4 separate regions of the Homo sapiens genome follow, and all the other regions are linked to region 1. Evidence: fine-mapped expression QTL. A gene starts in region 1. Each other region holds a variant in brackets. All regions are shown on one strand. Distances are between the middles of the regions.

Region 1 (5,149 bases):
ATATTCTTCTTCTTCTTTTTTTTTTTTTTTTTAGAGATGGGGTCTCACTCTGTTGCCCAGGCTGGAGTGCAGTGGTGCCATCATAGCTCACTGCAGCCTGGAACTCCTGAGCCCAGTGATCCTCCAGCCTTGGCCTCTGGAGTAGCTGGGACTACAGGTGCGCACTACCATGCCTTAGATACATATGCGAATCTCATTGGCTATTGCCTTGGATATCACAATGGAGTTTAACTCTGTCCATCATGTCAGCAATATACTATAGTGTCACTGGAGCCACAACTGGATTATGGATGTGACTCACCTAGTGATGCGCCATCCTTTTCAATAACATCTGATAATTGCAGAGATGACTACATCAGACTAGTTGAGCCACAGGGTACTGTTGGGTCACTGGTGACTGGCATGTGGGATAGGGGTGGAAGGGAATCTTTTTTTGGTGCTGCAGAAGATAAAGGGCTCTACCCTCCTGTGGAGTAGTGTGATACCCCAAGAATGGAGAGAACAGAAATTCTAAGATACGCAGCTGATGCTGGAGGTTAGAGAATTTTACTGAGTTTTTCTTGTTTTTTGGACAGCTAATCAGAAGACAATATATAAAGTTTAGTAACTGAAGTATGGTCAGGGAGAGGGCCTGAAAATTCTGCTTTGGAATATTTAATGGTGACATTTAGATAAGGGTTAAGGGTGAAGCCAGCCTTATGGATGTGGGGATCAGGGGAATGTTCCTCAGGTGCTCAGGTCAGGGACAGTGGCAACATCCTCAATAGTTAAGGAGGTGTGGGTATTTTGAGGAAATGATGTGGTTTGTTTCATCACTATATAAGCATCAGGAACTGGCAGTAGTGATATGTGAATGGGATCAAGGTAACCGAGAACAAGATGTGAAACTTTAGGGAAATGGTAAGTCTGTCTTTCATCTGGTTCAGCACACGGTGAACTGTTCCAGAGGTAGCTTCTTAAAGCCCTTCGTTTTGTCAAACCAGAATCTTTTTTTTTTTTTTTTTTGAGACAGAGTCTTGCTCTGTCACACAGGCTGGAGTGCAGTGGCACGGTCTCAGCTCACTGCAACCTCTGCCTCTCAGGTTCAAGTGATTCTCCTGCCTCAGCCTCCAGAGTACCTGGGATTACAGGCACGCGCGACCATGCTTGGCTAATTTTTTGTATTTTTGTAGAGACGGGGTTTCGCCATGTTGGCCAGGCTGGTTTTGAACTCCTGACCTCAAGTGATCTGCCCATCTCGGCCTCCCAAAGTGCTAGGATTACAGGTGTGAGCCACCACGCTTGGCCTGGAAACCAGTCTTTAAGAGAAAGGGATGCAGGAAAGATTGGAGATCTTTGAAGAATCTCTTTTTAAGAAAATTATCTTTTTCGCTCTAGTTCTGTCACCTTTAGTAGACTCTTTATTAAGCCTAAGAATCTTATACTTCTTATCTCTGTTCTATGTGAGTTGGTATAACGGGTCAAATTCACAATCCAGAAATGCCTGTATTGTTTCTGATGTGCTGAGGAGGTGTACAATTGTCTTCCTTGATTTCAACCTCAAAAGCTTTACATCTTTACCTGGGAACATAGAAGTCATTATTATTATGTCTTTCACAAATTATGTAAACTTAAAAAAATTATATTTTCAATGTAAACCACTCCTTGGAGGAAATTAGTTCCTTTAACATTTATTTCCTAATTTTAATTTCTACTAGTTTTATCTCTTTCAAGCTTAAATGAGTGGGCCTTAGTTCTGTATTATTGCCATCTTAATCATGTTCTTTGTGATTTTAGTAGCTTTACTTTTTAAAACTTACATTTCCATAATGAAGACTTCTGTATTTTTGTTTTTTTCGTCATATATCCGACTCCAGCTCCCTCAAGACCTGTCAGCTTTTCCCTGCACCCTTTGTTATCTCTTGCTGTGGTCCAAAGGTAAGGACAGTAAGCCGTGGGCACAGACTTTCCCTAAATCGTATGGATTTCCTTTAGTCAATAACAAGAATTTTGATAGTTAAGGCATTTACGCCTTAAGAATGTGATAAATTCCCCCTCCTACTGAATGTAAAGAACTATTTTTCTACGCAGACTAACTCTTATATTCACTTTTCTTATAGAATAAGTACGTAACCAAATCTGTTCTTGGCTTCTAAGAAGTTAGAACTCAACGTAAAGATGACTTGTGGAAAATTACTTACTCATTCTGGGTAAATGGACGCAGGTATTTAGTGCTTAAGTAGGTTCTGATATACCATTACATTAACATCATTTTAAAAATCGCTCTGAATTATATGTATTTTAAGAGTGACTGGGTTTTAAAAAAAATAGAAGTGGTAGAGCATAAATCATAATCTTTAATAAGGTAATAAAAGGCAAACACTATTGCTCTGGGCAAAACTGGGCTAATGCTTTTGGATTTCTTTCCGCAGTCTTCACAGACGACGCTCAGCATCCTATCAGCCCTTGGCAGAGACACACGATCCAGCCTAAATCCTCAAATTCTGGCTCTTGCCCAAAGTGTGTAGCCAGTATCCATAGAGACTGCGAAAAGCATCCGCGAGCCGGGGCGGCCCCCTCCTCCTCAGCTCCAAATTGCTTCCTTTTTCGGTGGGAGAAAAAACTCCGAGGAGTTGTGTGAGCGCCTAAGGAGCGCACGCTCCTCCGGCCCTCAACACCCAGTATAGTTTTCGCTAAGTTCCTGGCCGAACCACAGCTCCCACGATGCACCCAGGTTTTAGAGCGGTCAGAGGGGCGGCTTCCGGTTTAGGACAGCGCGGCTGCGCACGGCGTGTGGTCTTATTGGCTCGAACCGCCTCGTGCGATGCGCGTCACGGCGACGTGCGGTCGTGGGGGCGGGGAGACGCGGCGGCGGCGGTCGCTGTCGCGGCGGCGAGAGCGCGATTCCAGAAGCGGCATCGCGGCGGCGGCAGCGGCGGCGGCTACACCGGGCTTGGCCCCCTCCCTCCTCCGTTCCCCCCTCCTCCCCCCTCCCCTCAGCGGTGGCTCCCAAGAAGTCCGAGACACGCGGTGAGGCGGCGACGGGCTCCGGGTGAGGGTCTCTGGAGTGTGGGCGCCGTTTCCTGGGCGCAGAGGGAGAGCTTGGGGTCGGGGGGAGGTGAGAGCTGAGGGGCGAATGTCCCTGGCGCGGGCGGGAGAGCGCGCTCTCGGCCCGGCCCGCAACTTGATTCCTAACTCTGACCTGCCGCCCGGCGCGCCTTGGCCTGAGGGTCGGCCGTGTGGGGACCTGGAGCCGCCCTCCTTGCGACCGCTGTCGGAGGAGTCCGGCGCCCGCTGTTCCCCTCGCCTCGCCTTTCGCGGCGGAGGGTCGGAGCCTGCTGCCCTCTGCTCACCTTCGGGTGCAGTTGCTCCAGCTCCCTGCCCGCGGAGAGGATCTGCCCGCCCCTCTTCGTCTCTTGTCTGTTTTTATCACTTCTAGGAATTTGTTTGGTGGAGGCTTGGGATGGGCTCTCTCAGCGCTACTTTCACAGTGACTGGGGTGGGGAAGAGTTCCCTCACCTTTTTCAGGTGGCGCGTCAGGCAGCCTGCTTGGTACCTGGAGTCCTGTTTTCCCAAGCCCCCGTCCGTCAGTGTTCGCTTCTTCTAAAATTACCGATGACAGGGTTATAAATCAGTTTTTAGGGGGCTCGGAGAGAGTTTGGGTTGGAAACTGTTAGCTCTTTTTTCCTCCTGGCTTTTGATCTTGATTTAAGCGTTTGCCTCTGAAATTTTGACAACTTCATAAGATGGTCCAAAAGTGAATTTTGGTAGAAAGATTTAAATGCACAGTTGGGATTTTATGGGGGTACGGTGACTTCATTGCAGGTTGTTGACTTTTTTTTTAAAATAAGATGTTCTTTTAATTTTTTGACTCTGGGTTTCTGAGCCTTGGTTATTGTCCCCCATTTCTGTTCCAAAAGCAGACTTTTTTTTTTTTTATCACCCCTTCCCCTCACCCAGAGAATCCCTTTAAACGCCAAGAAAGCTGTCATAACATTTAGCATTATTTGATCACAGAACTTTTCCAAATGAAATGCTAAAAATTCCTTCAGAAAAAAGCATCCATCTACCCATAGCATTATTTTTTGGGGGGAGGCTATACGTCTTGTCAGTTCTGAAAGTTTGAAGTGACCTCTTATCAAAGGCCACCCTTATGTCTCCTTAAACGACTCTTAGGTAATTCCTAGATGTTTTCATCCGTTCTGATAAATTTGTTGTCAGAGTGTTGATTGTGATGATCTGCAACTAAAATTATTTCATCAGTAAAGATTTCCACACATGTGGCAGCTGCTTGTTGGTGAATTATGAAATTTGAAAAAATTGCAAATTAAATGTGAAAGGCATATTTCTTTTAACTTCTGATTGTAACTGTCTGTCCTCCAGTATACGTTCCTATCTAGACTTTGGTCTGCTTAGCAGATTTCCTCTTTTCACTTGACACTAGGAATGGGAGTAGGATTTCCAGAGCCTAAAAGAGAGTTTGTTTTTTTTTTCTATCCCTAGGCTCCTTGTATGAATTTATAAATAAATGGTTTTTTCTATCAATAGTATCAATTTAGCTGGTGCACTTTTTTTTTTTAGTATAAATCACATTTTGTTTCCTAAAATGAAAATAATTTTGTTTTATTCTTTATTTCAGGGATTGACAGATTTTAAAGCCTGCAGGCCCAGTCCTGCCAGTTGCCTCTTTTTGTAAATAAAGATTTGATTAGGCCTGGTGCGATCGCTCACGCTGGTAATCCCAGCACTTTGGGAGGTCGAGGCGGGCAGATAACCTGAGATCAGGAGTTTGAGACCAGCTTGGCCAACATGGTGAAACCCCGTCCCTATTAAAACTACAAAAATTAGCCGGGTGTGGTGGCGCACTCTTGTTATCCCAGCTGCCCGGGAGGCTGAGGCAGGAGAATCGTTTAAACCCGGGAGGTAGAGGTTGCAGTGAGCCAAGATTGCACCATTGCACTCCAGTCTGGACAACAAGAGCGAAACTCCGTCTTAAAAAAAAGAGGAAGAAAAAAGTTTTTATTAGAACATAGCCATATGCAGTCGTTTAGGTATTGTCTGTAGTTTCTTTTGGGGTACAGCAGCAGAGTTGAGTAGTTGTGCCAGAGAGCCATGTGGCCTGTAACACCTTATATTTATTTACTATGTGGACCTTAATATAAAAAGTTTG
Region 2 (5,149 bases), 22 kb before region 1:
AAAATTGGTGCCCTTTCTTTGAAACTATCAAATGCACATATCTTTTGATCCAGTAAGCCCGCCTCTACAAAATTATCCTACAGATACACTCACGCATGTGCACAAAGATATCGGCACAAGAAATTTCCTGCGGCATTATTTGAGGAGCAAAGTCTAAAAGAACCTGAATGCCTGCCAGTAGGGGGAAGGGATATTAAAAATGATTATTGTGCAAAATGATGCTATATATTGTTCACAGATGTATATATGTATGTATATGACATATAAAAAATTACAGAAAGGGTGTAAATAATTTCCAGTAGCGCTCCCCTCTAAGGATGGGAGGAAGGATGCAGGACTGACCACAAAGGCCACAGAATATTTCAGACTTCATCTGTAGCATTTTACTTATTTTTATGTAAAAAAAGAAAAAAAACAGCTATACTAAATGTTTTTTATCAATTCTGGTTGGTGGAGACTTCATTTATTACACTCTTATTTTTATGTATTTTTTCCAAAAAGCATGATACAGGGGGGTGGGTATAAGATGATATCTTTTGTGTAAAAAGAGGCCCCCTGAGCTTGTTTATGTGTAAATGTCCCTAGAAAGACAGTCAAGGTCACAGTGGCTGGTGTGGCAAAAGGCAACAAGGAAGTGGGTGGGGAGACTGGTTTTTCATTGCACGTTCTTACTGCTTATATATTTTGCCATTTGAATGTTCTGCTTACAAAGAATGATTATAAAAACAAGCAAACAGAAGGCATGCCTCCTGTGCCTGAGAGGACGGGAAGGGGAAAGAAAAGGCTGCTTTCCCTTCTCTGAAGCCTTTGCCTGAGGCCAGTGGGTAAATACTGATGCTGAGAGGAGGGAGGAGAGAAAGGCAGAGAGAGACAGAGACAGAGATGGAGACACACACACACAGAGAGACAGAGACACACAGAGATGGAAACAGGGAGAGAGAGAGACAGAGACGGACAGAGACAGAGGCAGAGAGAGACAGACAGAGACAGAGAGTCCCCTGAGAGGCTGGTCTGCTTTGGAAATATTCATGGTTTGCCCAGAGGAGCAAGCAATGTGGGCCAAGCTAAGAGCCTTGAGAGCTATTAACACACCAAGTAGGTAGTGACCCAGGCAGGAAAAAACACTAAGAAATGTCCAGTGTGGGCCAGGCGTGGTGGCTCATGCCTGTACTCCCAGCACTTTGGGAGGTTGAGGAGGGAGCATCGCTTGAGGCCAGGAGCTCACGACCAGGCTGGGCAACAAAGTGAGACCCCCATCTCTCCCAAGAAGTAAAAAAAAAATTAGCCAGATATGGTGGTGCATGCCTGTAGTCCCAGATACTTGGGAGGGTGAGGCAGGAAGATCACTTGAGCCTGGGAGGTTGAGGCCGCAGTGAGCCATGATTGCGCCAGTGCACTCCAGCCTGGGCAACAGAGGGAGGTTCCATCTCAAAAAGAAAAAAATATATATCCAGTGTGGCCAAGATATTTTAGGGTGAGGAGAAGGATCAGGAAGCCTCCTGGCCAGACTTTCAGCCTGCAATCCTATCCTCAGTATCTGAGACTACCAAATCCTCAACAAGAAACAAAAACTGAGGGTCCAAACGATGAAAAACAAACCGTAAAGAACGAATTACCCACGTGAATAAACTTTGAAGGCGTTGCGCTAAGGGAAATGAGCTAGTCACAAAGGACGACTACTCTCTCTACGATTCCACTCATATGAGGTACTACGAATAGTCAAATTCAGAGACAGCAGAACGGTGGCCACCAGTGGCTGGCAGGGCAGGATGGGGCGTTAGTGTTCAATGGGGACAGAGTTTCAGTTGGGAAAGAAAGAAAGTTTCTGTAGATGAATGGTGGTGATGGTGGCACAAAAATGTGAGTGCACTTAATGGCACAGAACTGTTCACTTGAGCATTTTAAAATTGTTATTTTTTTAGAGACAGGTTCTTGCTCTGTCACACAGGCTGGAGGGCAGCGGTGTGATCAGAGCTCACTATAGCATTGAACTCCTAGGCTCAAGTGATCTTCCTGCCTCGGCCTCCCAAGGAGCTGGAACTACTTGCCCAGTGTGCCACGATGCCCAGATAATTAAAAAAAAAAAAACCTTTTATTTTTATTTTTATTTTTTTAGAGATGAAGTTGCTATGTTGGCCAAGCTGGTTTCAAACTCCTGGCCTCCAATGATCCTCCCATCTCAGCCTCCCAAAGCTTGGGATTACAGGTGTCAGCCACTGTGCCCAGGCCTACTTAAAAATCGTTAAAATAGTATATGTTATTTTATACATATTTTACCACAATTTTAAAAATAAAAGAGTTACCCTCCCAGTTGACTGACAATCCTGGTATGCCTAAAACCTTTCACTAGACATTTAACCAGTCTTACTACCTCCTCCTGATCTTCAACTAAACCCTCCTCTGTCTTTTTCCTGTAAATTTTCTGCCAACACTGTGAAATACAACTTTGATACACACTTACATATGTTTTAAAAACACCTAATAACAACAACAGAACTAAACTAAAAATAACAGACAACTCCCATGTGCTGGAGGCAGTGAATCTCAGGTTTCCTTCACACAAAGCGGAAATGGCCAGTAAACCCACTTTGTTTCCCCACTGGCCAAGGGAGAAAAGCCGCACTGCAGACACCCACCCGACCCTTCGACCTCCAGACAGACACAGTGCTTTCTAACAAAACAAAAACAAACGAAAAACAACCCAACGGCTTAAAACCACAAAAGAAACCTTTACCCAATCCAAGCGACCCCTTGCTTCCGTTTGGGCAGATGGCATTTCACCACTTTTTGACCTTTCAACCAGTACCCTTGCTGAATTTCTTTCCAAAGCCAGAGTCATAATACGTGAGAGCGAGCATTTCTCAAGTGCTGGGCTTCAGG[G/A]AGGGCCCTGGTCTTTGGACGGTGAACAGAACTGGGGCAGAGGGAGTCCTATCTCGAGGAGATGACGCTGCTGCCCTACAGTAGCCAGCGCTGCTTTTGTAACTCTAGCGATGGCCCAATCTCTGATTGCCCCCACTCTGATCAGCCCTCTTTATTTTAGTCTCGCCTTTGAAATAAGTCTGGGTGACAGCCAAGATGTCCAGTGGCCAAGTCATGCTATGCCACTTCTACCAATGAGATGGTCCCTCCAGCCTCAGCCAGCAGAGACTGTCCTCTGGACCTAGAGCCCCACGAGTGGTGCCACGAGAGCAGCACCTGGGGCCCCACGACCTGGAAGTGTAATTAGTTTCAGACTCAGATAGAGAAATGGAAAGTCCTGATATTGATTGGAAAGCCTAGTTATAATATTCCTAATCTGGCTTGATCCTTGTCTAAAAAGACCTTTTATTTTAGTTGTAGCTTATTTGCCTGGCAAACAGGAGCTCTGGTTTAGGGAGGAGGAATGGGAATGGGGAGAAGTAGGCTATTATAATAATTGAGTACAATTTGAATCCTTTACACATTATGGCTTTTTCGTTTTTTTTTGTTTTTGAGATAGTCTCGCTCTGTCACCCAGGCAGGAGTGTAATGGTGTGATCTTGGCTCACTGCAACCTCCACCTCCTGGGCTCAAGCGATTCTCCTGCCTCAGCCTCCTGATCAGCTGGGACTACAGGCACCTGCCACCATGCCAGGCTATTTTTTTTGTATTTTTAGTAGAGACAGGGTTTCACTATATTGGCCAGGCTGGTCTCAAACTCCTGACCTCATGATCCACCCGTGTCGGCCTCCCAAAGTGCTGGGATTACAGGCGTGAGCCACCGCAATCGGCCCCACATTATGTTTTTAATCACCCTCAAATAGATGCTAATAAGTTGTCAGAAACATCATGAGCTGTTGCTGGGATACAGCCCTTTCACAGCCCAAAGAGCCCCTTGACACATCTTGTTTTTTTCTGGTGAAAAAATAAGAGGACTCATTTTAGTTAGACTCATTCACAAAAACCAGGCGGGCTCATTCTAGAGTCATATGGCCTCCAAAAGCTCAGACCAGAAGCGTACTGTGCTCCTGTCACACTCTAATCTGACTCTCTTTCTGGAAGAATTTGGAGAGGTGAGTGCCAATATCATATTACTTTCTCAGGCTGAGAATTTGAGGGTGGAGTCCGGCAGGCTCCTGAGGGAAAGAGAATAAACCAGGAGGAAAGGGGAGCTCGAGCTCGGCCCTTTGGTTTTCCTTGGAGGCCTTGCTTGGGGGCCAAAGGTTCTTGGCCTGCGTCCTCCCCTCCTTCTCCCTGGGCACTCAGTAGCAGAGTGCCAGCCTCGCTTCCACTGCAGGCAACCCCACACTGCCCCTCGGGCATCCTCTCCCCCTCACTCACTCACAGCTCATTCGAAAAGGCTTTACTCACCAACTTTAAGTTAATTGCTTCAACTAAATTACACCTTTTTTTCATATGAAGTCGCAGATGTGTTCCCAGATGGTGCCTGGCCTGGTGTTCTGAGTCATGGGTCTACAGAGGCCGCCACACCTTGACACCTGGTGAAAGGTCGCCACAGTGCCCTCGCTTGTGATTAGCCCTTTGTAAGTGCAGTGCTCATTTTACCCTGTGGTTCTGAACAAGCAGGAATGACTGAATCCTGAAGTTGAAGTAGCGTAGCTTTTCCCTGAGATTCAGATGTGTTTACTTTTACACCTTTAAAAAAAAACAACTTTATCAATACAGCTTCACAGACATCACTGCTCCCGCCGTTGCTTTTTCTAGCTTTTAAGGCTGGACATATACCAAGCAAGCTCCCCATCACCACCAGGCCCTTGCCCAGGTCCACAACAGGGATCAGAAACTTCAGCCTAAGCCCCACTGCTGTGGCTCAGGTGCCATCAACAAGTCTTACCAAAGCAGGAACTTTTCTAAGCTTCTAGAATGTAGTTGTCATACCTTGACTAGCTGTCATCAACTCCCTCCCCACGGAATAGTAGCTCTGCATACCTGCTGAGATCCTGCCATAAATGGTCAGGCCACCAGCAATTACACTGTTGCCACACCCTGACTTTTTTTTTTTTTTGAGATGGAGTCTTGCTCAAGGAACTTAGTACTTCATACACCACCACCCTATCTAACATGCTATTTTGCAGTGATACTTCATATCTTTACATATCCATCATCAATGTAACATACAGTTATACAGCGAATGCATGTTTAGATTTATTTAAAGCTTTATTAGTTTCTT
Region 3 (5,149 bases), 93 kb after region 1:
TATAATGGATAATCTGCTTAAGGCTTCACCCCCATGCTGATTATGTTTTGTTAAAGTGGGCACCATATCTCCCTTCTGATGTAGGGATAAAGGGGCTTTTTATATTTAGGATAATGCCTGTTTAGCTGGAGATCATAGAGAAAGCCACAAGCCCCTCAGTGCCTTGGCTGAGTCTTCTTGTAGGACATGGAATTAGCAGAGATGTTCTTGTCTCCTACTCAGTGTCAAGCTCAGTGCCCACTGAGAATGAACAAGGAGTGTTTTTCCTTTCGTCCTTAAACCCCCAAAACCATTTAGTATTAAAATCTAAACCCTGGATCATCCGGGGGTACCTGGAAGGTTAGACACAGAAGTAACCTCATGTCAGTGACCACTGTTAAAACACTCTGCCGTCCTCCTTTTTGTGTTCATATGAGCAAATGAGCATTGGTCAGGGTCAGCTTTCAACAGTACTTGAGTAGTACAGTGGTGTTAAGCCTGCTTGAGCACATGAGATAAGAATGTCTTTGCTGAGTACAGCTGAGCATTCTGTTATTTACATACATCAGAAGAACCAAATTCCTGAGCCTTTGACTTAGAGAATGATAGGCAGAAACCATTAGCAGCCTTTGCTTAGCATGTAGAGGAAAAGAAAAAGTGAATAGTGCAAAAGTCTAGCAAATCTTTCCTTAGAGGAGCAGAGGTAGGAAATAGTTTTTCTTTAGGTCTGCTTGGTTCTTACCTGTTGTGAGAGCAGCATTGCCATTTTCCTCTTCTCTTTTAGATGTCCATTTTATTTGTGAGTATGCATCCCATAGCTGTGCTTACATATATTGCTGTATACCAGCAGTTTATTTGGTAATGTCCAAAGCAAGTAATAGGTTCTTTATCTGTTGAGAAAGCTTACCAAATGACAGCTTGTTTTGCAAGGGTCATTGTTAACTCTGTGTCAAAATGTAGGAGCAGTTACTGGCAGAGGCAGGGAGCTCCTGTGTTGCTTTGGCTGATACACGGGTTTCAAAGTGGATTTAGATCAGTGGACTTCACATTTTTTTTTCCATCATGACATTTTCTATTACAGTCCTGAACACGTGTATCTATACATAAGTTCATGTATATATAAATTACAAAACTTTAACAAAATAGTATTTAATCCTCCACGTATGTTACAGTCTGATATTTTAAATTTTATTCTAGTTCATTTAAAAAAATGCTGGTTGAGACTCATTTAATTGATCTTAGAACTTAGGTCATATCCAGAAGTTTAAAAAAACATTAGATGCTTCTGGAGGCAGTAAGGCAGTAGGGCTGTGGCTGAGTGATTTGCTAGACTTTTGTACTTGATTGCTATTTAGGGGTCTGGGAGCTTATAGTATTCTCTCCCATCCCCCACCCCCATTAGGTCATTTGTTAAAGGCATTTAACAATTTTTAAGTGCCCAGTTATAGGTTATAGATTTAGATTAAATTTTTTCTTCTTTTTTCTTTTCTTTTCTTTTTCTTTCTTTCTTTCTTTTTTTTTTTTTTTTTTTTTTTTTTGAGATGGAGTCTTGCTTTGTAGCCCAGGCTGGAGTGCAGTGGTGCCATCTTGGCTCCTGACCTCAAGTGATCTGCCTGCCTCGGCCTCCCAAAGTGCTGGGATTACAGGTGTGAGCTGAGCCACTGCGCCCAGCCTTAGATTCCTATTAAAAATAGGTGATGCCAGGTGATGTGATCATTCATCGCCTCTCCACCCCAACAACGCCTGCTGCTTCAAAGAGAAGATGGGATACGTAAAATTGCTTGTATTGTAACCTGTGTCTGTAGAAGGACAGGCTAGGACAGTTTAAATAAACTCCTGGAGCTGTCCTTTCCGAAAACATTTAGCAACATTAATTCAAAACCCTTGAAGACTGCTGACTTACTAAGCTAAGCCTCTCTTAGTGAGGCTCATTGCTTTTTTTTTTTTTTTTTGAGACGGAGTTTCACTCCTGTTGCCCAAGCTGGGGTGCAATGGCGTGATCTCGGCTCACTGCAGCCTCTGCCCCCGGCTTCAGGTGATTCTCCTGCCTCAGCCTCCCGAGTAGCTGGGATTACAGGAGTGCGCTACCACGCCTGGCTACTTTTTGGATGTTTAGTAGAAATGGGGTTTCACCCTGTTAGCCAGGCTGGTCCCAAAGTGCTGGGATTACAGGTGTGAGCCACTG[C/T]ACCCGGCTGGCTCCTTGCATTTGTAAATCTTTAGAACATAGCTGTGTTGTCTTGTGTGACAGTGTCCCAGAGTTTGAAGAACCTTCTTTTTCCTTTAAAACTGGAAGCTAATTTTATATGCTACTTTGAAATATTCAGTTTACAGAGTTAATGGTGCTGTGCTGTAATACTGACTTCTGGCTCTTTGTTTCTCTTCTGCATTACTTTACTCTCTTCTTGTGACTCCTAGGAGTGTTTTTGGGCCTAGGCCTGAGTGGAATCATTCCTACCTTGCACTATGTCATCTCGGAGGGGTTCCTTAAGGCCGCCACCATAGGGCAGATAGGCTGGTTGATGCTGATGGCCAGCCTCTACATCACAGGAGCTGCCCTGTATGCTGCCCGGATCCCCGAACGCTTTTTCCCTGGCAAATGTGACATCTGGGTAAGTATGTCGGGGTGACTGAGTGTGTAGGTATCTGCTCATGAGTTATTGGCATCCTGCAGAGTGATGCAATAGAAAAAGTTTTAGACACAAAGTCAGGAGAGTTGTATCCTGGTCCTAACTCCCTATTGAGCTTTCTCTGGACAATAAGTACAATAATAACTAACATTTAGTGAGCACTTCCTTGGTGCTCAGCATGGTACAGAGTGCTTTGCACGGATTACCTCATTACATACATTAGCCCTATGTGGTATGATAACTCTTGTTAATGTCTTCATTTTACAAAGCAGGAGACTAAGGCTTAGGGAGGTGAGGCCACTTGTCCAAGCCATGTGGCTATTTAAGTGGTAGAACAGGAATTTGAATTAGGCTAGTTTTAATATCAGAATCTGTGCTCTTTTTGACAATGGCAAGTCATTTTGCCATTCTTTGTCTCAGTTTCCTTATTTATGAAATGAGGATGATAGACCAGATTTTCACCAGAGCCCTTTTTAGGACCAGATTTCTATCAGGGTCTTTTTTTATACCGAAATTTAGTGATTTGTAATGGGAGACTGAGTGTATGTATGTCTGGTGGAAGAAGAGGGATTGTGAAGAAGAGGGAACTGGATTGAACTGGATTGTGGTCATTGGTAAGAGAGGAGGAAAGAGAAGAGGGAAAAGAAAATATAAGGACTGATATAGATAGAAAAACTTATAACCAAAGAGGGCCTGAAATATTTTCAACAAGACAACATTGGAAATACGCTTAATGTGAAATCTGACCTTTGTAATTCTGTTCCTCAGCCTATTGCTGATTATTATAGACTAACCTGATGATCTCATCTCTTTAAAGTTTAGTTTAGCTATCTGTAAAATGAAGATGATCTTGAACTTAAGCAATCTTTCTAGCTTCAAATTAGCTAATTTATCTTTCTGATTCATCATCATCATTTTAACATTGGTATGGAGGGGTTTTTGCCCTTTATCCCCTTTCTTTGGGGGAAATTAATCCCCTTTGGTTTCCTAGGAAACATCTCTTGGGATGTGACTTGATTTCTTCTAGTTTTTGCTTCTAAAATCAGTGTTTTTCTCTTGATAAATACTGCTTTGCCACTGTACTTTTTCATTTTGAGATTATAATGACAGAATAGTGTAATTTTTGAAGTGCAGCGAGCAATTGATTACCCTTCTTGAGATGTGGAATAGCATTCAACAGAACAGGTAAAATCAGAAATAATGTCACTTGCTTGTAGACCAGCTTCTGACTTGAGAAGTAAAAGGGCCTGTTTGCTTAGTTTTTGACACATTATGTAGTTCATGAAATTTGAGAATCGTAGCACTGAAGGAAACTCTGGGGACCATATGTTGTGACATTCCACACACCATCCTGGAAGCCTCTTTAGTTTTTCTAACAGAGAGCAACATTTAAATGACCATAGCTCTAGTCCTCTTGTCCATGACAAAATGTCCATCAGCAGTGAGTAGGAAAAGGACTGTATGTGTAATCATAGCCCATGGCTAGGTGTCAAGGGATCCTTGGGACCTTTGTGGCCTGTTAGCAAGAGAGTCTGTGTGTCATTTGCCACTTTAGCAAGAGAGTCTGTGTGTCATTTGCCACTGGTTTCAGTGTTAAGTTTGTAGATTTTTATGTGTAGAGCTTAGTGGCAGCACCTTGGTTTCTTTGGGAACAGCTGGCTTTCAGCTCAGCAGAATGTGTTACACCTAATGGATGTTCCAGGATCTGTGGACGCCTTGAATTTGAGCTCTGTCACATCCATTCCCTGCCTTCTGCTCAGCATAAACCAGGATTAAACGATCCTAAGAATCTTTAGCAGTCTTAATAATGTATGGGTTTCTCTACCCCCTTCTCTTCTTTTTTCCCCTCCAGTTTCACTCTCATCAGCTGTTTCATATCTTTGTGGTTGCTGGAGCTTTTGTTCACTTCCATGGTGTCTCAAACCTCCAGGAGTTTCGTTTCATGATCGGCGGGGGCTGCAGTGAAGAGGATGCACTGTGATACCTACCAGTCTCCAGGGACTATGACCCTAAACCAGGGCCTGCGGCACTTGCGGGCCTCCCTGCTGGCTACTGATGCCAGTACCAGAGGAGCCCCAAAACTTTGACAGCCTCGTGGGCTTTGTGACGGCCCAGTGGCTCTGCGTGGTACATGACTGAGAAGAGAAAAACAAAAATAAATCATACCTCAAAGGATGGAGTGCATCAATTGGGAGAAAAGGAGACATAGCCCAAACCCTGGCTTATTCTTGGGATCTACTGATTGCGGGCTCTGCAAGACCCTTGGCAAACTGGCTTCTGATCCATATCATATTTATTTGTAGAAGATGGCGAAACAGTTTAGCTGGTGGTTCTTTCTTCTCCCTTTCTCTCTCTCTATGACAATAATACAAACCAATTTAAGTGAACATTTATATCCGATAAGGGGTGGGAGTGTGATTTTAAATGCTCTTTTGGGAGAACAAAGAAATTAATGTAAATAAGATTTCTAACTGTTTAAATAAGACTTTATATAAATGTTTAAAACATAGGGGTAAGGGAGGGAGGGAGAATTTTTGTATAGA
Region 4 (5,149 bases), 32 kb after region 1:
TGTCTGCCCCGGCCTCCCAAAGTGTTGGAATTACAGGCTTGAGCCACCGTGTCTGTCCTCTTTTCATCCCAGACCATGCTTGGTGTTGTGGATACAAAGTGAATTCTAAAGAAGGCCTCCCCATCTTAAGAAGTTTCATAGTTCAAGAAGGGAAGACAGGCATGTAAACAGATAAATGCAATAAGTTGTGACATATGCTATATCAGAAACAAATGAAAAGAATAAAGGAGTTAGTATCATAAGCCTGGGGAGGTCAGGGAAAGACATTTCTATCCCTGACTTATTTTTGATGTGTGAATAGTAGTTTCCTGTTGACTTATTTGACAGATATTTACTGAATACACTTTACTTTTGCCAGGCACTATTTTAGGTGCTGGGAATACCACTGGTTTCATGGAAGACAATTTTTCCATGGACTGGTGGGCAGGGGGTGGAGGGGATGGTTTTGGGATGATCCAAGCACATTACATTTATTGTGCACTTTATTTCTATTATTACTACATTGTAATATATAATGAAATAATTATATAACTCACCATAATGTGGAATCAGTGGGAGCCCTGAGCTTGTTCTTTCACAGCTAGACTGTCCCATATGGGAGTGATGGGAGACAGTGGCAGATCATCAGGCATTAGATTCTCATAAGGAGCGTGCAACCTAGATCACAATAGGGTTCAGGCTTCTATGAGAATCTAATGCCACCGCTGATTTTACAGGAGGCGGAGCTCAGGTGGTAATGCAAGCAGTGGGGAGCAGCTGTAAACACAGATGAAGCTTTTGAGCCCCTCCTGCTGTGAGGCCAGGTTCCTAACAGGCTATGGAATTGGCTTGTAGCCTAGGGGTTGGGGACCCCTGCTGTATAGGAGTTGTGAAAGGAAATTAAATCTTGGGGCCCTCAATCCCTAAACTAAAGGAAAAAGTCAAGTGGGGAACTGCTTAGGGCTAACCTGCCTTCCATTCTATTCAAAATCATCCCTCTGCTCACTGAGATAGATACATATCTGATTGCCTCCCTTGGAAAGGCTAATCAGAAATGCAGCCATTGGTCTCTCACCTAACTTTAACCTGGAAGCTCCCTCCCTGATTTGAGTCTTCTTGCCTTTGCTTTAAGTTGTCCTGCCTTTCCAGACCAAACCAATGTACTTCTTACATATATTGATCGGTGTCTCAAGTCTCCCCGAAATGTATAAAACTAAACTTTGCCCCGGCCACCTTGAGCACATGTTGTCAGGACTTCCTGAGGCTGTGTCATGGGAGCGTCCTCAACCTAGGCAAAATAAAATAAACTTTTTTTTTTTTTTTTTTTTTTTTTTTTTTGAGGTGGAGTCTCACTGTCATCCAGGCTGGAGTGCAGTGGCACGATCTCGGCTCACTGCAACCTCCACCTCCCGGGTTCAAGTGATTCTCTTCCCTCAGCCTCCTGAGTAGCTGGGATTACAGGCACATGCCACCACACCTGGCTAATTCTTGTATTTTTAGTACAGATGGGGTTTCACCATGTTGGCCAGGCTGGTCTTGAATTCCTGACCTCAACTGATCCGCTTGCCTTGGCCTGCCACAGTGCTGGGATTACAGGCGTGAGCCACTGTGCCCAGCCTGCAAAATAAACTTTCTAAATTAACTGAGACCTGTCTCAAATTTTCAGGGTTCACAGAGTAAAGAAGACAGATAATGTCTCTACTCTCAGGAGCTTTCAGTCTAGTGGGAAAAGATCAGTAGTAAACAAAAATATCAGAGACAAGTGCTATGAAAGAGACTAAAAGGTGATGTAATAAGGAGAGACTGAGGGGTTGCTTTACATTGCATTGTCAGGGAAGGATCCTTTGAGTAGGTAACCTTTGAGATCTTCCTACAAAAGAGTCAGCCATGGCAAAGATTAGAGGGATGAGCATTCTACCATAGGGAACCATGTTACACAAAGCCCCTTGAGCTCTTGGAGTATTTAAGGAGCAGACAGGTCAGTGTGGCTGGAATGTAATGGGCAAGGGGTAGAGTGGTGCAAAATGAGATCAGAGATAGTCAGGGTCTAAATCATTTAAGGCTTTGTAAGCCAGAGTAAGGAGTTTCTAGGTGTAAACGAAAGCCAGTGGAGGGCTGTAGCAGGGGGAACGCCTTTTGAAAAAGATTACTGTCGCTGCCGTGTGAAGACTGGATTCTGAGG[A/G]TAAGGGTAACAAGGGTGGAATTTAGGAGACCTCTGGAGGCTGCTGTATTAGTATAGGTGAGAGGTGGTGGTGGCTTGGGCCAGAGAGTAAATTAGTGGAGAAAAATAGGTTGATTTGGGCTGTGTTTTGAAGATTGAATCAACAGGACTTGCTGACTGCATGTGATCAAGGCAAATCCTAGGACTTGAGCACTTAGAAGATTGGTGGTGCAGTTTACTGAAATGGATAAGACTGGAGGGGAGAGCAAGTTTGGTGGGACAATCATGAGTTCTGTTTTGTTAAGTTTGAGGTGCCAATTAGACATCTATGTAGAGATTTCATACTTGGTGGTAGGTAATAGTAGTACTGTGGAATTCAGTGAGAGTTTAGGGCCAGGGATAAATATTTAGGAGTAACTGATGTATGTCTGCTAGATTTGGTAAGTGACCTTGACAAGTGTGGTCTTAGTGGGAATGGAAACTAGATTGTAGAGAAGTATCAGGTAAAGGATGGAATGAGAATATGAAGTTGGGGAATGGAGACAGTGACAATAGACTCCTAAGAAATTTTCCTGTGAAAAGGGAAGCAGAAAAATGGTTGTGACCACAAGTAAGGCCCAGATTCGAATCTTACTTTTATACTTGCCTGGATACAGTTATTATTTGAGTGCATTCTAAAGTTTAAGATATTTTATGTACCCTACGCAGTCCTCTCTACAAATATTGAGGTAGATGATACTTTTCCTTCTGTGACATGAGAGTCCTTAGTTTAGGGAAGTTAAGTGACAGTCCAGGTAGAACCTGTATTTGGACTCACTCACTTTGACTGTAGATGCAGAGTATTTTTCATTATACCAAAATGCTCCTTAAACTTTTATTATCTTGGTCAAATCCAATCTACCTTAGAGTTTTTGGAAGGATTACAAGATGAGAGATGTGAAAATTCTTTGCAAGCTCTAAATTGTTACACAAATATAGAAATTCCTTTCTTTAAAATGCCCCATTATGTCTTCTTTGTGCATGACTTTTTAGGATATAGTAGGTAGTGGCCTTGAAGTTCATTTTGGATCATAGCCTATCTCATTAGAGCCCAGAGAATGTAAGCAGATTGTTAAAGACATAGAACCTGTCAAAGCTATCTATGGCATATGAATCGAACATGGATCATGTTTAATTGAACATTTTTACCCTGGTTTAATGATCTTGTCTCCTTCGCATGTTCCATGAGGTCTCATAATCCTCCCCAAAGGAGCTCTTCCCAAAAATAATTCCTTCTAAAAATGTGGAAGGGCTGGGCACAGTGGCTCATGCCTGTAATCCCAGCACTTTGGGATGCTGAGGCAGGTGGATCACCTGAGGTCAGGAATTGGAGCCTGGCCAACATAGTGAAACCCCGTCTCTACTGAAAAAAAAAAAAAAAAAAAAAAAATTAGCCAGGCGTGGTGGTGGGTGCCTGTGCCTGTACTCCCAGTTACTCAGGAGACTGTCGGAAGAATTGCTTGAAGCGAGAGGTGGAGGTTGCAGTGAGCCAAGATCGTGTCACTGCATTCCAGTCTGGGTGACAGAGCAAGACTCCATCTCAAAAACAAAACAAAACAAAACAAAACAACAACAACAAAAGTGGAAGTAATTTTAAAAAAACTGCAAAAAAGCCAATCCTGAAAGGTTACAAACTATATCATTCCAAAAGCCGTGGAAAACAGTAACGTGAGTCCTCAAAGAATTAAAAATAGAATTACCCTGTGATCCAGCAATTCTACTTCTGGGTATATACTCAAAAGAACTGAAAGCAGCAGGGTCTTGAAGGGGTATTTCTACACCCATGCTCATAGCAGCATTATTGACAAATGCTGGAAGTAGTCCAGCTGTCCCCAAATGGAGGAACAGATAAGCAAAATGTTACTGGTATACATACAAAATGGAATCTTTTTTTTTTTTTGGGAGACAGAGTCTTGCACTGTTGCCCGGGCTGAAGTGCAATGGTGTGATCTTGGCTCACCGCAACCTCTGCCTCCCGGGTTCAAGCGATTCTCCTGCCTCAGCCTCCCTAGTGGCTGGGATTACAGGTGCCCGCCACGACGCCCAGCTAATTTTTTGTATTTTTAGTAGAGACGGGGTTTCACTGTGTTGGCCAGGCTGGTCTTGAACTCCTGACCTCGTGATCCACCTGCCTTGGCCTCCCAAAGTGCTGGGATTACAGATGTGAGCCACCGCACCCGGCCACAAAGTGGAATCTTATTTCACCTTTCAAAGGAGAGAAATTCTGACATGCTACAACCTGGATGAATCTTGAGAACAATACACTAAGTGAAACTGGCCAGTGAAACCAGTCACAAAAAGACAAATACTGTATGATTCCACTTTAATGAGGTACTTAGAGTAGTACAAATCACAGAGACAGAAAGAATGGTAATTGCCAGGGGTTGAGGAGAAGAGGGAATGGAGAGTTACTGTTTAACGGGTATAGTTTCAGTTTTGCAAGTTGTAGAGTTCTAGAGCTAGATGGTTGTAAGGGTCACACAACAATATAAATGTACTCAGTAACATTAACTGTGCACTTAAAGATAATTTAGATGGTAAATTTTATGTTATGTGTATTTTACTATGCCATCATGCCTGGCTAATTTTTTTGTTTTGTTTTGATTTTCTGGTGACAGGGTCTCACTCTGTCGCCCAGGCTGGAATGCGGTGGCACGATCACGGCTCACTGTAGCCTCGACTTCCTGGACTCAAGTGATCCTCCCATCACAGCCTCCCAAGTAGCTGGGACTACAGGTGTACGCCACCACTCCTGGCTAATTTTTACTAACTCACTCCCTTTTCTGCCTCCTTTCAGTATTCATTCATTCATTTAACAGATAATGACTGAACAACTGTTAGGTATTATTAGGTATTATATATTATTCCTGGGAGCAGACTATTAAGAGTCACTCTATACCATCACAGTCCCAAGTGTCATTATGAAAGAGGGGCTATACACAATACAGCAGTATAAAACTGTAAACAGAT

Direction of the effects. Positions count from the first base shown, and alleles are read on the strand shown. Sizes are in standard deviations (SD) of each study's normalised expression. Not every link is listed here.
As copies of A replace G in region 2, the expression in subcutaneous fat of the gene that starts at base 2,888 in region 1 goes down (small effect, 0.27 SD a copy in FUSION).
For the expression in skeletal muscle of the gene that starts at base 2,888 in region 1, allele A in region 4 goes with a lower level than allele G (moderate effect, 0.42 SD a copy in FUSION).

Evidence for each region. PIP is the estimated chance that this variant, and not a neighbour inherited with it, causes the effect.
Region 2: its variant is the best candidate, but not a certain one, in a credible set for the expression of ADIPOR2 in subcutaneous fat (FUSION, PIP 0.85).
Region 3: its variant is the best candidate, but not a certain one, in a credible set for the expression of ADIPOR2 in whole blood (TOPMed, PIP 0.58).
Region 4: its variant is the best candidate, but not a certain one, in a credible set for the expression of ADIPOR2 in skeletal muscle (FUSION, PIP 0.68).

The regions. Positions count from the first base shown.
Region 1 is chr12:1,688,183-1,693,331 of GRCh38, forward strand. ADIPOR2 (adiponectin receptor 2) reads left to right here and starts at 2,888. Exons shown (of 8, transcript NM_024551.3): 1 at 2,888-3,009. RefSeq lists enhancers at 2,391-2,550, 2,571-2,620, 2,704-3,282 and silencers at 2,781-3,080, 3,101-3,190.
Region 2 is chr12:1,666,246-1,671,394 of GRCh38, forward strand. No RefSeq gene overlaps it. Among named protein-coding and RNA genes, the nearest start is that of MIR3649, 8.4 kb to the left of the region's middle. RefSeq lists an enhancer at 2,869-2,918. The variant G/A (reference allele first, on the strand shown) is at 2,881.
Region 3 is chr12:1,781,486-1,786,634 of GRCh38, forward strand. ADIPOR2 (adiponectin receptor 2) reads left to right here. Exons shown (of 8, transcript NM_024551.3): 7 at 2,395-2,588; 8 at 4,459-5,149. The coding sequence ends at 4,587. Among named protein-coding and RNA genes, the nearest start is that of LRTM2, 37 kb to the right of the region's middle. The variant C/T (reference allele first, on the strand shown) is at 2,165.
Region 4 is chr12:1,719,919-1,725,067 of GRCh38, forward strand. The region is part of intron 1 of ADIPOR2 (adiponectin receptor 2); the gene reads left to right. Among named protein-coding and RNA genes, the nearest start is that of ADIPOR2, 31 kb to the left of the region's middle. The variant A/G (reference allele first, on the strand shown) is at 2,162.